Homo sapiens: one gene and its partners. The gene in region 1 interacts genetically with each later gene. Each region holds a gene or a part of one and is shown in the gene's direction. Other genes may lie near its edges. The genes, in order: IGF2BP1, SEC24B, SLC30A5, RAB1A, SEC31A and NPRL3.

The links.
Region 2: changes in IGF2BP1 (region 1) and SEC24B together harm fitness more than expected from each alone (negative genetic interaction), as found in Homo sapiens cells (one large-scale study listed by BioGRID).
Region 3: changes in IGF2BP1 (region 1) and SLC30A5 together harm fitness less than expected from each alone (positive genetic interaction), as found in Homo sapiens cells (one large-scale study listed by BioGRID).
Region 4: changes in IGF2BP1 (region 1) and RAB1A together harm fitness more than expected from each alone (negative genetic interaction), as found in Homo sapiens cells (one large-scale study listed by BioGRID).
Region 5: changes in IGF2BP1 (region 1) and SEC31A together harm fitness more than expected from each alone (negative genetic interaction), as found in Homo sapiens cells (one large-scale study listed by BioGRID).
Region 6: changes in IGF2BP1 (region 1) and NPRL3 together harm fitness more than expected from each alone (negative genetic interaction), as found in Homo sapiens cells (one large-scale study listed by BioGRID).

What each region holds. Positions count from the first base shown.
Region 1 is NC_000017.11:49,042,385-49,045,884, forward strand, and holds part of IGF2BP1 (insulin-like growth factor 2 mRNA-binding protein 1), read left to right. Parts: intron 1-1,043; coding exon 1,044-1,166; intron 1,167-1,582; coding exon 1,583-1,702; intron 1,703-2,606; coding exon 2,607-2,681; intron 2,682-3,500. UniProt on the Homo sapiens protein: RNA-binding factor that recruits target transcripts to cytoplasmic protein-RNA complexes (mRNPs). This transcript 'caging' into mRNPs allows mRNA transport and transient storage.
Region 2 is NC_000004.12:109,436,815-109,440,314, forward strand, and holds part of SEC24B (protein transport protein Sec24B), read left to right. Parts: intron 1-3,500. UniProt on the Homo sapiens protein: Component of the coat protein complex II (COPII) which promotes the formation of transport vesicles from the endoplasmic reticulum (ER).
Region 3 is NC_000005.10:69,125,014-69,128,291, forward strand, and holds part of SLC30A5 (proton-coupled zinc antiporter SLC30A5), read left to right. Parts: intron 1-2,990; coding exon 2,991-3,119; intron 3,120-3,278. UniProt on the Homo sapiens protein: Together with SLC30A6 forms a functional proton-coupled zinc ion antiporter mediating zinc entry into the lumen of organelles along the secretory pathway.
Region 4 is NC_000002.12:65,086,354-65,089,230, reverse strand, and holds the end of RAB1A (ras-related protein Rab-1A), read left to right. Parts: intron 1-160; coding exon 161-292; intron 293-540; coding exon 541-738; 3' UTR 739-2,377; downstream 2,378-2,877. UniProt on the Homo sapiens protein: The small GTPases Rab are key regulators of intracellular membrane trafficking, from the formation of transport vesicles to their fusion with membranes.
Region 5 is NC_000004.12:82,874,154-82,877,653, reverse strand, and holds part of SEC31A (protein transport protein Sec31A), read left to right. Parts: intron 1-1,831; coding exon 1,832-1,927; intron 1,928-2,902; coding exon 2,903-3,043; intron 3,044-3,500. UniProt on the Homo sapiens protein: Component of the coat protein complex II (COPII) which promotes the formation of transport vesicles from the endoplasmic reticulum (ER).
Region 6 is NC_000016.10:97,174-100,673, reverse strand, and holds part of NPRL3 (GATOR1 complex protein NPRL3), read left to right. Parts: intron 1-164; coding exon 165-302; intron 303-2,372; coding exon 2,373-2,529; intron 2,530-3,500. UniProt on the Homo sapiens protein: As a component of the GATOR1 complex functions as an inhibitor of the amino acid-sensing branch of the mTORC1 pathway.

The sequences.
Region 1 (3,500 bases):
CTGGGTAGTACCCTCTGCTTATCCTTTCCTGAGTCTTAGCAACAGCAGCTTGTGGGGTGCAGGGTGATGGACATGTGCCCTGTGCCGTGTGGCCTTGGAGCTTTAGTTGATGCTTTTGGACTTCGACTATCAGAAATAGTATTTAAATAGTATTTAATTAGCAAGGATTCTTCACCTGGTTCCTAGAGTAGGGGTCCAATCTTGGGCTTTGAGTCCTGTGATTCCAAGTATGTGTACAATTTGTGTTTGTGTGCACTTTATTGAAATGAGGGGGTCCATCGTTTTCATCTGATTTTTATTTTATTTTTTTGAGACAGGGTCTTGGTATGTTGCCCAGGTTGGAGCACAATGGCGCAATCATAGCTTACTGCAGCCTTGACCCCCTGGGCTCAAGGAATACTCCTGCTTCAGCCTCCCAAGTACCTAGGAGACTACAGGTGTACACCACCATGCCCAGCTAATTTTTTAAAATTTTATTTTTTGGAAACAGGGTCTTGCTGTGTCACCCAGGTTGGTCTAGAACTCCTGGGCTCAAGCGATTCTCCTACCTTGGCCTCCCAAAGTACTAGGATTATAAGCATGAGCCACTGCACACAACTCATCTGATTTTTAAAGGAGACTTGGGGTTGGGGTACAGGACCAAAAATGTTTAGAATCAGAGTCCTAGAAGTCCAATGGAGCTCTGTCTCCACGCCTTTTTCTCATATAGGGGGTTATAGTATAGTGTCATGGGTCTATCGTCTGTCTCCAGCAGTCTGAACAGCCAGAGAGGAAGGACTCCTGAGGGTGTACAACTGTTTGGCATTTCTGGTTGCAATTGCTAGCCGTTAGTCCAGTGAGAACATCATATCACTTAAAATTCCACACCCGAAGTGTGTAGGTGAGAGTGTATGAAAAGCACAGAATAGGCTTTTGTGGAAAAGTATGTAATTCATGTTTTTGGCCCACTTGCCTCTGGGGCTACTCGCCTTTTATACAGCGGGGGTCACACACAAGCCCCTGTCAGGGTGTGCTGACTCTTCCTCCTCATCTTTCTTCCCCAGCTGCAGTCTCACCTGATCCCTGGCCTGAACCTGGCTGCTGTAGGTCTTTTCCCAGCTTCATCCAGCGCAGTCCCGCCGCCTCCCAGCAGCGTTACTGGGGCTGCTCCCTATAGCTCCTTTATGGTAGGTGGAAGATCTTATTACACGGGATCCCTGGGCCCATATGTGGCCTCCCTTAAGGGGGACTCAGCATGCTCTGGGAGTTGGATGCTTGGCAAGTTTGCAGGGAGAGGGAAGGAAGGTCTCAGAGGCATCCCTCCTCTCCAGTGCTCCTAGCCACTGGCTCTGAGGCTCCCAAATGTCTGCCTAGAATGCTCCCGGGGCATAGACAGCACTGTTCCCTTACTCTCTCCTGGCCTCTTCCCTTTAGCCCTACTGGGCATAGGAAGAGCTAAAGAGCTCACAGCATCCCTTGGCAGCCCAGGGTGGCGGTTTGGTGCCTGTACTCCTTCCTCCTTGAGGATGCAAGGCAGGGGAGTGGAGGGTTTCTGGGCCATGCTACTTGGGCCCCCTGGTAACAACGCCTCCTATCCTGGCAGCAGGCTCCCGAGCAGGAGATGGTGCAGGTGTTTATCCCCGCCCAGGCAGTGGGCGCCATCATCGGCAAGAAGGGGCAGCACATCAAACAGCTCTCCCGGTTTGCCAGCGCCTCCATCAAGGTGATCTGCTCTGTGGGTCTTCCTGTTTCTGGAAAGGGAGGGGTCTCTGCTTTTATCACTCTGCACTTTCTCCCATATTCCCCCTACTCATTTGAGAATTCTGTGTGTCATATGAGGGACCTTTCCCCCATGGAATCGAAGTCCTCTTTGTTTTTGATCTTGCTTGGTCCCCATGGGATGGCTTCAGTGCTTCTGGGTTTTCAGGCTGGGCAGGGGCAGGGTTATAACATAGAAAGAGAACTTAGGTTCTAACACAAACTGATGGGTTCAAATCCAAGATCCATCTCATCACCCCTTCCCCCAATACACTATATGATCTGAGCCTCACTTTCCTCGTCAGTACAATATTATGAGGCTACGCAGCCAAAGCCCTTCGCTCACATACTAACACCAAGTAAGTGTTAGTTGTCTGTCACCTTCCCTGGCCAAGGTCCAGGGGAGAGAGAAGGGAGAATCTGTCATAGTGAAACAAGGATGCTGTTAGAGTTTCACAAACCTAAATCCGGTTGCTTTAGTTGTCTTAAAAGCTTTGAGCAAAAACCTTGATTGTTCTCCAGTGGAGGTGCAGTCACTGCCCTCTATCCGTTGGTCATTTCATTTGTGTCCTTGCCTGTTGGCAAGACTCCACTGAAACCTCTCTGGGAGATTGGTAGGTGGAGGGGGCAGGAGGCCCTACTTAGAAAGTGTCATTGAAGCCAATCCTTCTAACTGACCACCTCTGCCCTCCTAATAATTCTGGTGTGAAGGCGTAATGATGTGGGCTTCAGGGTCTTTGTTCTTCCTCCCCTAAGTCTTCAGAATGGGTAGTTGGGAGTAAGGGTGGTAGAAGGGGAACTGGATGAAGTGGACATGGTGGGGGTCTTCCCATAGAGGGTCCCTCATTGACTAGCTTTTTGCTTTTTAGATTGCACCACCCGAAACACCTGACTCCAAAGTTCGTATGGTTATCATCACTGGACCGCCAGAGGCCCAATTCAAGGTTTTGGTCTTTATTGTTTTCCAAGCTGAACATGGAGGAATTGAGGTTGGGTATTTCCCCTGAGGTAGGAAAAAGGCTGGGTCAGTTTCCCGTTAGCTGTCAAGTCCTCATCACATCTTTAAGCCTTCCATGCAGGATAAAGGGCTGCAGAGCTATTTTCAAATTGACATCAAACTGGATTTCTGTTGACTTCGTCTTCCCTTTTTAAGGTCCACAGAAGAAGATGGGAAGGAAAGAAGTCTGAGGGCATCTTATTTGCACTCTGCTGTCATTTCTAAGGAAGGCCTTTAATGCCAAATTCTCATCTTTTATGTCCCCACTAAATCCTAAGGTTCTTGAACTTCTGATCAGACAGCCAAAAAATGAACCATCAACTAGCTTAACCTAACATATGTGAGGATAGAGGACTGGGACAGCTCTCTGGGCCACTGGAGAGTCAGACAGGCCTGCCCTCTGTGTGACTTGATTAGTTGCCATTCAGGGCCTTGAAATGCTGGTCAGTGCCACGTCCAGATTCCATAGGTCTGGTTTGTAGCTTGTGAATTAGATTCCTCTGGGAACTATTTTTTCCCTTGGGAAGTGTTTATTCAATTACTCATAACTCATAATCTCCACCCAGGGTCTCCAGTATGATAGCTAAGCAGAAGGAATGCTGACAAGCTGCCCACCTGAGCCTTGCCCTTCACCTGCCTTAGATGGTTAGCCCGCCTAGGATGGGGAGGGCCTGTGGGCCAGAAAATATGGGCTGGAGCTTCCTTTTTCCCACTTTTCTCTTTTGTCACAGATATATGAACCACTGATTAACAATTACCTCCTCTT
Region 2 (3,500 bases), on another chromosome or scaffold:
TGGGTTGCTGAACATGTGGAGATGCTGGGAGGGTGGCGGCACCTGCCCCCATCCTTTGCCCTGTACATCTCTTTCATTTGGCTGTTCATCTGTATCCTTTGTAATATCCTTTATAATAAACAATAAATTTAAATGTTTTCCTGACTTCCACAAGCCCTTCTACCAAAGTAATTGAACCTAAGGAGGGGGTAGTAGAAACTCCAGTTTGTAACTGGTTCCTCAGAAGTACAGATGGCAACCTGCTACTTGTGATACTTATGATAGGCATCTGAAGTGGGGAGCCATCTTGTGGGACTGAACCCTTAATCTGTGGGATCCGAGTCTAACTTCAGGTAGGTAGTGTCAGAATTGAATTGAGTTGGAGGACCCCCAGTTGGTGTCTGTTGGGGAAAAATAAAAACAAAAATTCACACATCTGGTCACAGAAGTGGTCTGTGCAGAATGAGAGTAGAGTGAAAGAAGTTTTTTGTTTTTTATTGTTTGTTTTAGAGACAGGGTGTCACTCTGCCACCCAGGCTGGAGTCAGTGACTCCATCATAGCTAACTGCAGCCTCAACCTCCTGGGCTCAAGTGATCCTCCTGCCTCAGCTTCCCAAGTAGCTAGGACTATAGGCATGCACTACCACTCCTGGCTAATTATTTTTATTTTTATTTTTGTAGAGACTGAGTCTCACCATGTTGCCCAGGCTGTTCTCTAACTCCTGGCCTCAAGTGATCGTCCTGGCTAGACCTACCAAAGTCTTGCGATTATAGGTGTGAGCCACTGGGCTGGGCCCTGTTTTTTCTTTTACAAGTGGTTAGCAAATGGCAAACTTTTTTTGTTTGTTTGAGACGGAGTCTCGCTGTGTCGCCCAGGCTGGAGTGCAGTGGCACGATCTCAGCTCACTGCAACCTCCACCTCCTGGGTTCAAGCGATTCTCCTGCCTCAGCCTGCTGAGTAGCTGGGCCTACAGGCGCACACCACCACTCCTGGGTAATTTTTGTATTTTTAGTAGAGATGGAGTTTCACCATGTTGGCCAGGATGGTCTCCATCTCCTGACCTTGTGATCCACCTGCCTCGGCCTCCCAGAGTGCTCGGATTACAGACGTGAGCCACCGTGCCTGGCCCACAAACGTTTTTTAAGATTTGTTTTTCCAAAGGATATTGTATATAGATCCCTGATAGAGAAATCAGAAAAAAGCAAAGTGGTTGCGGTTAAAATAGAAGTAGAAGTTCAGTTGTTTTTAAGCACAGTTTGAAAAACACATAGTTTGGATCCCTACCTTTACAGATGAAATGAAGATTCAGAAAGGTTAAGTAGGTACATTTTCTACCAATTCTGTGAAAGCTTTGTGAGGGTGGCAGTTTTTTCTGTCTCTTGTTCACGTTGTATAATAAGAGCCTAGAACAGTATAGGCAAGTTACAGGTATTCATTAGACATGTATTAAATGAAGTCCATTTTATTTTTGCTAATTCCAACTCTAGATCTCTTCTTAAAACTTTTTGTCTGTTTGTTTATTTATTTATTTATTTTAGAGACAGAATCTCACTCTGTCACCCAAGCTGGAGTACAGTGTTGCCATCATAGCTCACTGCAGCCTTGAACTCCTGGGCTCAAGCAGTCTTCCCACCATGGCTTCCTGAGTAGCTGGGACTATAGGTGTGTGACACCATACCCAGCTAACTTTTAAAAAAAAATTTGTAGAGACTGATCTCAAACTCCTGGCTTCAAGTGATCCTCCCATCTAGACTTCCCAAAGTGCTGGGATTACAGGCATGAGCCACCATGCCCAGCCTAAAGATCTCTTTCTGTTAACAGACTCTAAGAAAATTCTTTTTAGAAACTTTGATGTTTGAGAAGAAAGGAATAGAGAGGCAGAAAACCTAGTCTTCATGATCACTTTTACTTGTTTTCTAGGTGTAACTGCTAGCATGTTTCCTCCACTTATTCGAAGATACAGCTTGACTTGATTTCAAGTCTGTGAAATCTTTCTCTTAAGCTTCCTTCCTTGGTGTTGTATTTCTATCCTTCATTTTTCATTGAGCAATATATGGATTTTTAAAACTATTTGTATTTCCATACCAAGCATTAATTGAATATTTCTTACCTTTTACTCTGCCTTTTGGGATTCCTTCCAAAGCTGAGTCCTCAAACGTAGGAAGACTGACTAAAGTAATAGCCTGGTAATGAACTTGTTGGGAGGTGAGGGGATGGGGCAGTCAGATTTAATAATAAGCTGCTGCTTTTTAATTTTACTTTTAGGAAGCAAATGGTGTTCATTTTCAAATGAAAGTATATTTTAATCCTTCCATATGCCCTTTTCCAGAATGAAACTACAGTTTTATCACTTTAATTGTTAATAATGCAAGAAAGATGAGATAGTAATGGGAATTACTAGAACTCACTATGGAAGATGTAAATAAACATACCATTCATACAGCAGTACTATCGGGTCAGTCACTGGAAACCCTTAAACTTTGAGGGCACATGCAGCATTTAAAATGATATAAATCTCCCTAGTGTATCTCAAATAAGTTCCTTTTGATCAGAGCCACATCAGTGTCTCAGGTTTCTAGTCTCCATTTATAGCTAACCGGAAGCATCAGGTCCTCTCATGAATATACCCCTGTGGTATTAAAGTGACTGTGTCTGAATACATAATTTCCTCCTAAGCTGATTTTTTTTTTTTTTTTTTTTTTTTTTTTTTTTTTTTTTTTTTTTTGAGACTGAGTTTCAGTCTTGTTGACCAGGCTGGAATACAATGGCACAATCTCAGCTCACTGCAACCTCCGCCTCCCGGGTTCAAGCGATTCTCCTGCTCAGCCTCCCGAGTAGCTGGGATTACAGGCATGCGCCACCATGCCTGGCTAATTTTGTATTTTTAGTAGAGACAGGGTTTCACTATATTGATCAGGCTGGTCTTGAACTGCTGACCTCAGATGATCCACCCGCCTTAGCCTCCCAAAGTGCTGGGATTACAGGCGTGAGCCACTGAGCCTGGCTCTAAGCTGATTGATAGATATCTCAAAGATCTTAAAGTAGGCCGAGCATGGTGGCTTACGCCTGTAATCCAAGCACTTTGGGAGGCTGAGGCGGGCGGATCACTTGAGGTCAGGAGTTTGAGACCAGCCTGGACGACAGGATGAAACCCGTCTCTACTAAAAATACAAAAATTAGCCAGGCGTGGTGGCAGGTGCCTGTAATCCCAGCTACTCGGGAGGCTGAGGCAGGAGAATCACTTGAACCTGGGAGGTGGAGGTCGTGGTGAGCCAAGATTGTGCCATTGCACTCCAGCCTGGGGGACAAGAGCGAGACTTCGTCGCAAAAAAAAAAAAAAGATCTTAAAGTATTCACTCCATATGTAAACAAGGGTCTTATATCTGGGTTTAATTTTTATTTTTTATTGCTATATATATTGCTTTAGTTGTTTGCAGTGTCTTTTCACTCCCTTCCTCTCCCCCCAAGTTTCTGGGATTGTAGCAGTAATTAATTTTGTAAACCATATTCATTGCCACCA
Region 3 (3,278 bases), on another chromosome or scaffold:
CATAAAAGGCAGACCAGGAAAAAACATTTGCAGCACATATAAACAGGCAAAGGTTTACTGTCCATAATTCTTTAAGTCAAGAAAAAGACAATCTTAGCTGTGCATGGTGGCTCATGCCTGTAATCCAGCACTTTGGGAGGCTGAGGTGAGCAGATCACCTGAGGCCAGGAGTTCAAGGTCAGCCTGGCCAACATGGTGAAAGTCCATCTCTACTAAAAATACAAAAATTAGGGTCGGGCACGGTGGCTCACGCCTGTAATCCCAGCACTTTGGGAGGCTGAGGCAGGCAGATCACGAGGTCAGGTGATTGAGACCATCCTGGCTAACATGATGAAACCCCATCTCTACTAAAAATATAAAAAATTAGCCGGGCATGGTGGCGGGCACCTGTAATCCAAGCTACTCAGGAGGCTGAGTCAGTAGAATCGCTTGAACCCAGGAGGTGGAGGTTGCAGTGAGCTGAGATCACGCCATGGCAACAGAGCGAGACTGGCAACAGAGCGAGACTCTGTCCTTCCCCACACACAAAAAAAAAAATTAGGCCTGGCACGGTGGCTCAGGCCTGTAATCCCAGCACTTTGGGAGGCCAAGGCTGGCGGATCACAAGGTCAGGAGATTGAGACCATCCTGGCTAACATGGTGAAACCCCGTCTCTACTAAAAAAAAATACAAAAAATTAGCCAGGCACCGTGGTGGGCACCTGTAGTCCCAGCTCCTCGGGAGGCTGAGGCAGGAGAATGGCATGAACCTGGGAGGCGGAGCTTGCAGTGAGCCATGAACCTGGGAGGCGGAGCTTGCAGTGAGCCGAGATCACGCCACTGCACTCCAGCCCGGGCCACAGAGCGAGACTCCGTCTCAAAAAAAAAAAAAAAAAAAAAAAAAATTAGCTGGGTGTAGTAGTATCGCACACCTGTAATCCCAACTACCTGAGTGGCTGAAGCATGAGAATCACTTCAACCCAGGAGGCAGAGGTTGCAGTGAGCCAAAAATCACACCACTGTACTCCAGCCTGGGCAACAGAGCAAGACTGTCTCAAAGGAAAAACAGTCATGTAGAAAAATAAGATGAGAATATAAACCAGCAATTCCTAGAAATAAACAAATATAAAATAGACTCTCTTTCACCTCGTGGTTTACTACATCATATTAAAGTAATTGGGATCTGCTGATGAAAAGATAGCATCTTGAATATTTAAGTTCTATCATCTTAACCCATTGTTTTCATAAATAAAATTAGTAAAGTTATCTCACCTCATAGTTATTGGATAGTAGTACATCATGGGGTTTTTTTAAGTTTTTGTTTGTTTGTTTTGTTTTTAAATAGAGCTGGGGTTTCTCAATGTTGCCCGGGCTGGTCTTGAAATCCTGAGCTCAAGCTTTGGCCTTCCAAAGTGAGGGATTATGGGCGTGAGCCACCGCGCCTGGCCTAAAGTATTTTTTATTTCAATAATAATATATGTCTGTTGTAGGCCAGGCGTGGCGGCTCACACCTGTAATCCCAGAACTTTGGGAGGCCGAGGCGGGCGGATCACAAGGTCAGGAGTTTGAGACCAGCCTGGTCAATATGGTGAAACCCCATCTCTACTAAAACTACAAAAAATACAAAAATTAGCTGGGTGTGGTGGCACGTGCCTGTAGTCCCAGCTATTCGGGAGGCTGAGGCAGAAGAATCGCTTGAACCCAGGAGGCAGAGGTTGCAGTGAGCCGAGATCACACCACTGCACTCCAGCCTGGGCGACAGAGTGAGACTCTGTCTTAAAAAAACAAACAAACAAACAACAACAACAACAACAACAAAATATATATATATATGTATATATATCCATTGCAGAAAACTTCAAAATATAGAAAAGTGCAAAAAAGAAAAAAAAAAATCACATAATTTTACCACCTGGAAAGAAATACTTTTTGTTTCCTTCCCATTCTACAAAAAGCCATGTAAAGAAACATTTTTACAAGTTGTTTCCATATTAAAATTTTGAAAATAAAAATGGCAAAAAACTTTCGTAATGTTTTATAAATTTTCTCCCCACTTAATAATGTCATGTTGATTAATATTCTAATACATTGTTAATGACTGCATTATTACATTGTATGGGCAGTCAATCATTTATTTAACCAATCCTCTGTTGTTGAACATTGAGGATATCTTTTGAATGTGTTATCTCTATATAACAAATAATGTGCATATGAATGTGTCCGTGTAAAGGAGAACTTGTAGTTCATTGAATGTGTCTAGGTCATGATTAGAATAGGCAGAGTTGTGCTGTATCAGGGAAAATAAGGGTACTGCTATTGATAAGAGCCCATTTTAGGTATAAAGATAACTGTAACAGCTGGGCACGGTGGTCCACACCTATAATCCTAGCACTTCGGGAGGCTGAGGTGGGTGGATTGCCTGAACTCAGGAGTTCGAGACCAGCCTGGGCAACATGGTGAAACCCCATCTGTACTAAAATACAAAAAAAAAAAAAAAAAAAAAATTTAGCCAGGCGTGGTGGCGTGCACCCGTAGTCAGCTACTTGGGAGGCTGAGGCAGGAGAATTGCCTGAACCTGGGAGGCTGAGGTTGCAGTGAGCCAAGATGGTGCCACTGCACTCCAGCCTGCGACAGAGCAAGACTGTCTCAAAAAAAACAAAAACGAACAAAATAAAGATACCTGTAACACCCATTTGCCTTCCTACTCAGAGCTGCCATACTAGCATCATTCCTAGGTGAGATTTTTTTTCCCCCACACATCTGTAGCCTCCAGAAATAGATCAGAATATTTTAGGCACCTTTACTTTAAGCTATTTTCCCATCTCCTATTCCTTCCTGCTTCTGGCTTCTCATTATGGCTGGTTTTTTGTTTGTTTTGTTTTGTATTTTAAAGAGCTTAATAGTGATCCTGGACCAAGGAATCTGTGTGTTTACTTTCTGTCAGAAAGCATCTCCATTGTGTTGTGTAAAGTAGCCTGTATGACCATTTATATCACCTCTTTTATTTGACAGATACAGAAAATTGAAGGATTAATATCATACCGAGACCCTCATTTTTGGCGTCATTCTGCTAGTATTGTGGCAGGAACAATTCATATACAGGTGACATCTGATGTGCTAGAACAAAGAATAGTACAGCAGGTAATCTTTTGTTTTTAAAGTAATTTTAATTGAGGTCATTCATACCCAAAATTGTACACCTCATAAGTTATATGGCTCAGTAGTCATTTACTATTCAGAAATATCAATCTTCCAACTCTTTTTTTTTTTTTTTTTTTGAGACAGGGTCTCACTCTGTTG
Region 4 (2,877 bases), on another chromosome or scaffold:
AAAAAAAAAAATCTCTTCACTCCTTAGCAGTGGTTATTTTGTAGCTAGAGTTGTCTCACTAGCTCTTTGTTATTTGTCTGTTAGGTCAGGAACGATGTTTCTGTTTATTCCAGAACTATATTATCGAACTATATTATCAGTCTTTCAAATGTCTTTTTAGGAGTCCTTCAATAATGTTAAACAGTGGCTGCAGGAAATAGATCGTTATGCCAGTGAAAATGTCAACAAATTGTTGGTAGGGAACAAATGTGATCTGACCACAAAGAAAGTAGTAGACTACACAACAGCGAAGGTATGTTTAAAGTTTAATTTTCATACTGAATTTGAAGGTGTTGAATTATGTATGGGTTCTGCAGTAACAGTAAGGCCACAGCCTTTTAAAAATATGTGCACTAGAATACTGTGACAGTGACAATTTGTGTAGCATCTGTTTGGATCCAATGAACTTAGTTCCTCACGCTCCATTATGGATGGTAGAAATGCACTAAGAATTAGTGAAAAAGATTTTTCAGTGTTAATTGTGCCTCATTATTCTCTTAGGAATTTGCTGATTCCCTTGGAATTCCGTTTTTGGAAACCAGTGCTAAGAATGCAACGAATGTAGAACAGTCTTTCATGACGATGGCAGCTGAGATTAAAAAGCGAATGGGTCCCGGAGCAACAGCTGGTGGTGCTGAGAAGTCCAATGTTAAAATTCAGAGCACTCCAGTCAAGCAGTCAGGTGGAGGTTGCTGCTAAAATTTGCCTCCATCCTTTTCTCACAGCAATGAATTTGCAATCTGAACCCAAGTGAAAAAACAAAATTGCCTGAATTGTACTGTATGTAGCTGCACTACAACAGATTCTTACCGTCTCCACAAAGGTCAGAGATTGTAAATGGTCAATACTGACTTTTTTTTTATTCCCTTGACTCAAGACAGCTAACTTCATTTTCAGAACTGTTTTAAACCTTTGTGTGCTGGTTTATAAAATAATGTGTGTAATCCTTGTTGCTTTCCTGATACCAGACTGTTTCCCGTGGTTGGTTAGAATATATTTTGTTTTGATGTTTATATTGGCATGTTTAGATGTCAGGTTTAGTCTTCTGAAGATGAAGTTCAGCCATTTTGTATCAAACAGCACAAGCAGTGTCTGTCACTTTCCATGCATAAAGTTTAGTGAGATGTTATATGTAAGATCTGATTTGCTAGTTCTTCCTTGTAGAGTTATAAATGGAAAGATTACACTATCTGATTAATAGTTTCTTCATACTCTGCATATAATTTGTGGCTGCAGAATATTGTAATTTGTTGCACACTATGTAACAAAACAACTGAAGATATGTTTAATAAATATTGTACTTATTGGAAGTAATATCAAACTGTATGGTGATAAGTATTGTTTTGATTCTTATGGTTAAAGGGAAATAGAGCCTTGCATTATATTCAACACAGCCATTTGTGTGTGCACAATGCAAACTAAGGTATTCTAGACCTATCTTAGAGCAGCATCCAGTATTTGCTTTCTAGATAATATGCCCAATAACATGACCTAGAGGGGCTTCTGTGCTGTGTAGGGATTTAACCAACTTCAGTGGTTCAGGGAGCTCAAACTATATGTAAAACAAGTTTAGAATGTATGCTATCTAGCCCGTTATCTCTGATCCTTCTCTAAAACCATTTGAAATAGCTTCATTGATCAACATTTCATAAATGCATCTGTGGTAGAGGTAGAAAGCAGCACCTTTCCTAATTGGCAAATGATCAGACTAATGTGTGCTAATGTTTTTCTTCCATGCTTTCAGTCAGATTCAACTATTTTATCCTCCACAGTTGCTTAACTTGGTGTTGGAGGAGGGTTTAAGCATTAAGATAGGAAGCAGGAAATTTGATTGCTCTAAATTTAGAAATTATATCCCTAAAAATTAAAACATGAATACTGGGTGGTAATGATAATTGAGGCAAATGTATTTATTTTGGTGACATTTTGCATATATGAAGATTTTCTGAAATAGGACCTTCAAGATCCTAGGGGGTTTTGTTTGGTTTTTAATTGTGAGGAATAAAAAATCTTCTGCCCACACTGGCATTTTAAGGTGACTGAGGTCAAACGTTGTTTCCTTAGGTTGAAATAGCAGCCAAAACATTCTTCACGCAGGGGCTTGGGATATGGCTGCTGGCAACACATTTTGTTGTGGGCTCCTTAATTTAATGATAAAATTTAAGCTAAACACAAGCCAAAAATGAATAGGTTTTTTTAATTTTTATTTTTCACTAAACAGGCAATTGAAATACATGGTACAAAAATAAGTGGTAAGATAATTGTAAAATGAAATGGACAGAATATTCAATTTTCCATCTATGAAAATTTCACAATAAAAATCATAGTTTACTTTGTATTATAGGCGTGCTTGGTGGATCTATTCATCCTCACATAAGGCAACTGACAAATTCCTGAAGTTACCAATAGTTATTTTGGTGAAGATCTTTAATGCTTCAGAAGTTTTGTTTTTGCCTTAATACAGTATAAAGGGGGAAAGAGTTCAGAAACTATTTTCTAAAGTAGCTAAATGACACAAAACAAATGTCAAGATACTGTGATGCCATGCCGTGCACTTCATTTTTACACAGTAAAAGTTGTTTAAATTGTCAGCTTATTCTTGGTGAGTTAGCGGAAACATTACATGAACTTAAGATGAGCATATTTACAGACTTAAGTTTGGAAAATTCCAGCGTTCTTTTCCCCATGGCAGTAAAGATTGGGATTTACAACAAATTTCAGCATGCCTTAAGATTTGCTTCTATGTATACGCCAATAAATGTGGTTCTGGAAAAAATATATACCCCTTTATACCCCCATTTTCAAGTACAAACGGTTCAAAGCTACTACAGGTTTTAA
Region 5 (3,500 bases), on another chromosome or scaffold:
TTGCCTTCATAAACATTTCTGGTTGTTAATTATATAAATGCACAGCTTAATAACGATCTTAGCCTGAACAGGATGGTGAAACCCTGTCATTACAAAAAATGCAAACAATTAGCAGAACATGGTGGCACACGCCTGTAGTCTCAGCTACACGGGAGGCTGAGGTAGGTTGATGGCTTTAGCCTGGGAGGTCTACGCTGCAGTGAGCTATGATCACACCACTGCACTGCAACCTGGGTGACACATAGAGACCCTGTCTGGAAAAAAAAAAAAGACCTTGAGTTAATAGGATACTAGATTATAACAACCAAAAATGAGTATTAAGAAAATTTTAAATAGTTCCTTTTCTTATATTATAAATAGATACTTAGGGTATAGCAATACAGAAACCCAACTTGTTTATTTCTTTTTTGTTGTTGTTTTTTGTTTTTTGAAACAGCGTCTTGCTCCCTCTGCCAGGCTGGACTGCAGTGGCTCATGACTCACTGCAGTCTTGACCTCCTGGGCTCAAGCAAGTCTTCTGTCTCAGCCACCTGAGTAGCTGGGACTACAGGCATGAGCCACAACACCTGGCTAATTTTTGTAGAGACAGGGTTTTTTCGTGTTGGTCAAGCTGGTCCCAAACTCCTGGGCTCAAGTGGTCTGTCTGCCTCAGCCTCCCAAAGTGCTGTGACTACAGGCATGAGCCACTGTGCCCAGCCTTCGTTTCTATAGTTTGTGGTATCTGCTCTTTAGCTAACTCCTTTGTTAATTGTATTGAACAGCTGATGATTTTTAATAAAGTATTTTGTGTTATAGGTAGCTACTACCATAGAATGTCTCCCTTTTTTTAGTTATATGCCAACTGATAGAGAATAATTTGTAAGAGTAAATAGTAGTGGATGAAGGTCAGTATATGAAGCCCATTATCTTCCTGTACTTTATATTACAATTTCAGGTTCTTTTTGACCCTTAAGGTATGTACCAGAGAAAACCTAGAAATATTGCCACCTGGAATAAGATTGAGTGTATATGAACTAGAAATATGTGAAGAGTTATGACAAGAGATTTTACTAGTGCTGTATTGATTCAGCTCTGGAAGCTGGCTTTGAGGTATCCTGAGAAAGATGCCACAGTTTTAGGATTCAGCTTTTTCTGAAAGCAATAATTGATGACCTTTTTAATCTTATAATTAAATCTCCTTCCAGAGATGCAAAGATACAAACAGTAATCCTCACATGGTTGCATGACTGATTAAGAATTTATCCAGCCAGGTTTGGTGGCTCACGCCTGTAATCCCAGCACTTTGGGAGGCCGAGGCAGGTGGATCACCTGAGGTCAGGAGTTTGAGACCAGCCTGACCAACATGGAGAAACCCCGTCTCTACTAAAAATACAGAATTAGCCGGGAGTGGTGGTGCATGCCTGTAATCCTAGCTACTCGGGAGGCTGAGGCAGGAGAATCACTTGGACCCGGGAGGCGGAAGTTGTGGTGAGCTGAGATTGCACCATTGCACTCCAGCCTGGGCAACAAGAGCAAAACTCCATCTCAAAAAAAAAAAAAAAAAAAAGAATTTATCCATATAATTTTTAAAATAATATCTTGCATTAAAATTAATTTGTTCTCAGTAGACATCTTTTGTCTTTGTTAAGTAGAATTTTATGTTTTTCTAGAAAACTTTAAATTTTGAAAGAATTATGCATAATTTAGAAATTCATGCATATGTTTTTCACTTTTCAAATTAAATAGAAAAATTGTGTATGCTACATCTAATATCTTTCTAGCTCTGAACTGAGTTATTCTGAATTTTCTTAATTATTCATAAGTGCTATTTAGTTATGGTTTCTTCTTGCAGACTAATCTGGTAGCTTCTGGTGCTAATGAATCTGAAATCTACATATGGGATCTAAATAATTTTGCAACCCCAATGACACCAGGAGCCAAAACACAGGTATTTTTATATTGATTTTGATCATTGTAATCAAAAAAGCCAAAAGTAGTTCTCCTAAACCTACTTATTTCACTTTTAAGGCTTCTCACACAAAACATATATGTTTAAAATCATTGTTTAGATATTACTGATTTTTCTTCAGTAATTAATAAATATGTTTCTTCAAAGTATCAGTGAGTCCATCAAGAGTAAATATTTATTTAGTACCTACCACCTGGTAGACACTGGTCATTGTACTAGGCATACAGTAGTAAACAAAATGAACAAAAATCCTTAATAATTGTCTTAGATATAGTATAATTATTTTTGTTCTTTGTGTGATAGTTGCTCTGTGTTTTGGCAACAACCAACCTTCTTAAAACACACTTAGACAAGACCATGGAAGACAAGGTTTAAAATAAATACCTCAAGCCCTTTGCTTGTGTATTTCTATTAAGTTTGGTAACAACAGTCTTCTCCTGTTCTTCCCTGAGTTTCTTTATGTTGTATAGGCTATCCAACTTGAGTAGCCATTGTAACTGGCTCTAACATTTTGGCAATCTGAGAGGTAGCATAATGACAGCATATGCACTACCATTTATAAAGGTATTTTGCTAATGGTCTAGGCTGTAATTTTGCCCTGCCTAGTTTTCTGTCATAGTCACCAACATCTACTTTGTGGTCCATAATCTACCTTGCAGCAGTTGCAAAGTAAAGAAACAGTACTTGGTTTATAGCAGAAATTCAATAAAATTCTTGTTGAATGAGATATTATGAAACAAGATAATACACTTGAAGTGGTATGTACCTGCATTTTAAGTCATATAATTTTATGTGTTGAGAATGTAGAGATGTAGGACTATAAAGCAAATTTGTGGCATAAATGGATCAGATTTTTAAGTAATACACTTTTCAAAATGAAGGATCCAATTTTACAGTTAAATTTGATTATAATAGAGAAACAAGCAGTTTTTATTAACTGTTTCTTCCTTGTAGCCGCCAGAAGATATCAGCTGCATTGCATGGAACAGACAAGTTCAGCATATTTTAGCATCAGCCAGTCCCAGTGGCCGGGCCACTGTATGGGATCTTAGAAAAAATGAGCCAATCATCAAAGTCAGTGACCATAGTAACAGAGTAAGTATGTGATTGACTTGTGATGAACATGTTGTATTTCTGCTGTAGGTATTCCTATATTGTTTGTCAGAGTTGACAACAAATCAAATTTCTGTGAAGTCAAATCCTGTTTTTTTATTAATCAGTCATGTTAGAAGGAATGTTTTGTTTTTTTTCCTCTAAGGGAAAATCATAAAATTCCCAATAAATATGTTGGATATTATTAATGATGAAGAGAGATTGGTTAATCAAGGAACTTATTCCATGATATACTGGTGGTTTTGCTTTGCTAGCTGTTTTAAAACATTGCAGCAACTTTTTTTTTTTTTTTCTTGAGACGGAGTCTCGCTTTGTCGCCCAGGCTGGAGTACAGTGGCGTGATCTCGGCTCACTGCAACCTCTGCCTCCTGGGTTCAAGCACTTCTCCTGCCCCAGCCTTCCGAGTAGCTGAGATTACAGGCATGCACCATCAAGCCCG
Region 6 (3,500 bases), on another chromosome or scaffold:
TCTTAAACATAATGTGATCTTAAGAGATGCTCTCCTGCCCGGGTCTCCACCTGCAGTTTCCCCTAAGCAGCAGGGGAATCAGCACCATTGAGCAGGGTGTTTTCTGATCTGTGTGCATGGTTAGAAAGTTTATGTGAACGGGTAACAGCGCCCACTCTCTGCAGCCTGTGCACGTCGGGCGTAGTTCGGCTTCACATCAACAGCTGGCTGGAGGTGAGCTTCTGCCTGCCCCACAAGATCCACTATGCGGCCTCCAGTCTGATCCCCCCAGAGGCCATCGAACGGAGCCTGAAAGCCATCCGGTAAGTGCCCAGCCCCACGTGCTCACTCCCTGCCAGGGCCCTTCCCTTTAGCTTCTGCCTGAGATTTTACCACTTACTTTGTTCCAAAATTTCTCTTTTTCTTCTTCCCACTGCGGAAGCTTGCAGGTGGGGCTCTGCCGTTTATAGAAGTTAAAACACATAATTTTGTATCCAGTTGTGTCCAGAAATGACCAATCCCAGGTTTCTCCTGGGCCCTTCTGGCACCACCTTAGGCTTGGGCAGGGCAGCCTGGATGTGGGGCTGAGTGTCCTTGGGGAGGCCGGAGGGCTGGAGGGACTTCATCTTAATGGTGTTGCCCTACCCCAGTCTTTTGCATTTCAGTCAGCACTCATGGGATCTCAGTTATTTTCTTTTTCTTTTTTTTTTCTTTTTCTTTTTTTTTTTTTTTTTTGCGGGGGTGTGTGTGTGTGTGAGAGAGAGACAGAGTTTTGATCTTATCGCCCAGGCTGGATTTCAGTAGTGCGATCCCGGCTCACCACTACGTCCACCTCCCAAGTTCAAGTGATTCTCCTGCCTCAGGCTCCCGAGTAGTTGGGATTACAGGCGCCCACTGCCATGCCTGGCTAATTTTTTTGGTACTTTTAGTAGAGACAGGGTTTCACCATGTTGGCCAGACTGGTCTCGAACTCCTGACCTCAGGTGATCCACTCATCGCTCATCTCAGCCTCCCAAAATATACTTTCTTAATTTAATTGACTTTTTTTTTTTTTTTTTTGAGATGTAGTCTTGCTCGGGGCTCAAGTGCAGTGGCACAGTCTCCACTCAGTGAAGCCTCTGTCTCCCGGGTTCAAGCGATTCTCCTGCCTCAGCCCCCTGAGTAGCTGGGATTATGGGTGCACACCACTACACCTGGCTAATTTTTGTATTTTTAGTAGAGATGGGGTTTCACCATGTTGGCCAGGCTCGTCTTGAACTCCTGACCTCGTGATCCACCCGCCTCGGCCTGCCAAAGTGCTGGGTTACAGGTGTTAGCCACCATGCCCTGGCAATTTAATTGATTTTCTGCAAGGAAAGAACTGAGCCCAGTCTTCTGGCACCACCTGTTCCCAAGTCCCCCAATACCTTGAACATTTTTTAATTATAAAAATATATCTGGGCACATTGCTGAAAATTTGGAAATGACAGAAAGCAAAGCGCTGCCTAGTTCCACCCTCCCCAGTCCGTGCTCTTTGCTTTCAATCCTAGCTAAGCATATTTTAATGTACTTTGGTCCCTAGTCTGTGAGGAGGATTTTGCTTTTCCCATATTTGGGACAATTTCCTTAGGAAAGATTCATTCATGTCTTCAATCAACAGATGTTTGCTGGGCGTCTCTGAGGTGGGATACAGAGTCCAGTCTTCGAGCCTTCCCCACTTTTGTCGTGTTTTTTTCCGAGGGTGACATAATCCTTGCAGGTTTTGTTTTTGTTGTTTTTGAGACAGAGTCTCACTCTGTCGCCAGGCTGGAGTGCAATGGCGCAATCTCGGCTCACTGCAAGCTCCGCCTCCCAGGCTCAAGTGATTCTCCTGCCTCAGCCTGCCGAGTAGCTGGGACCCCAGGTGGGTGCAACCACACCCGGATAATTTTTTTATTTTTAGTAGAGATGGGGTTTCACCATGTTGGCCAGGCTGGCCTCGAACTCCTGACCTCACGTGACCTGCCTGCCTTGGCCTCCCAGAGTGCCGGGATTATAGGCATGAGCCAGTCCTTGGCAGATTTTGTGAAGGCCTCCAAACAGACCACTGCCCTTTTCTCAAATCCCGCTCTTGGCCCTTCTCTCCGCAGTTAAGGGCCAGGAGGCTCCAGCTGCCTGTTTGTGTCCCAGGTGCATACCTGATGCACACCCGGTGCAGGACCTCGTGCAGGACCTGGTGCATACCTGGTGCAGGGTTCCCTGCACTTCGTATGTTCCGTGTGTTTGAGTCCCAGGTGCATACCTGGTGCATACCCGGTGCATACCTGGTGCAGGACCTGGTGCATACCCGGTGCATACCTGGTGCAGGACCTGGTGCATACCCGGTGCAGGGTTCCTGCACTTCGTGTGTTCCGTGACAGGTGATTGTTTTGCAGCCCCTACCATGCCCTGCTGCTGCTCAGTGATGAGAAGTCCTTGCTGGGTGAGCTTCCTATTGACTGCTCCCCTGCCCTAGTGCGGGTGATCAAGACCACATCTGCTGTGAAGAACCTGCAGCAGCTAGCCCAAGATGCGGACCTGGCCTTGCTGCAGGTATAGCTCTGGAGGCCCAGATGGGTGGCATGTGGCGGTGCTGGGGCATCAGGAAAGGCAGGCCGCCTGCCACAGTACATCCACAGGGGCTGTGTCCAGCTGAGAGCCGCGGCACAGCCCACCATGGGGTGGGGCCAGTCCCTGGGATGGCTGGAGGTTTTGGCATCTGAGTCAGACCTGGGTTCAGGGCTGGCTTTGTGAGTGAGCCACGGGACTGACTTGTTCTTCTGTCTCAGAGAGGTAAGGCGAGTCTGTGAGAGAAAGGACTGGGGTGCTTGCAGTCCTGGAGGTTGAGGCACCAGAGCTAGGGGGTGGGCAGGGCAGCAGCGGGCAGGGCCATGGGGGTCTCACAGTGGTGCATGAACAACATACGGGAACTAAGGGCAGGAAGCTTGGATGCGGGGCCCTCCCATGTGCAGAACAGAGACCTAACCTGGTGGCCTTACGCCCCTGTGTGTGCACATGTGTTGGCCTGTGCACTCTGTACAAGATGCCACGTCCTTGCTGAGCCACATGCTTATGGGCCTGTCCATGCAGAGGGCTGCCCTTTCTGATTAGATGGAGGGCCCCTCAGCCTCGTCTGCGGATCTGGTTGGAGTGTGGGAGGAAAAGCGCAGGCAAGGCTGGGCACGGTGGCTCATGCCTGTCATCCTAGCCCAGGACTTTGAGACCAGCCTGAGCAACATGGCAAAACCCCGTCTCTACAAAAAATACAAAAAAAAAAAAAAAAAAAATAGCTGGGTGTGGTGGCGTGCACCTGTAGTCCCAGCTACTTGGGGGTATGAGGTGTGAGGATCAATTGAGCCTGGGAGGCAGAGGTTGCAGTTAGCTGAGATTGTGCCACTGTACTCCAGCCTGGGCGACTCTGTTTCCAAAAAAAAAAAAAGCACGGGGAGAAATCAGAAGCAGGGGCTGCTGATGGGGTGGCCAACAGGCCATGGGATCAGCTGTGGCTGCTAGTCATGTGGGCG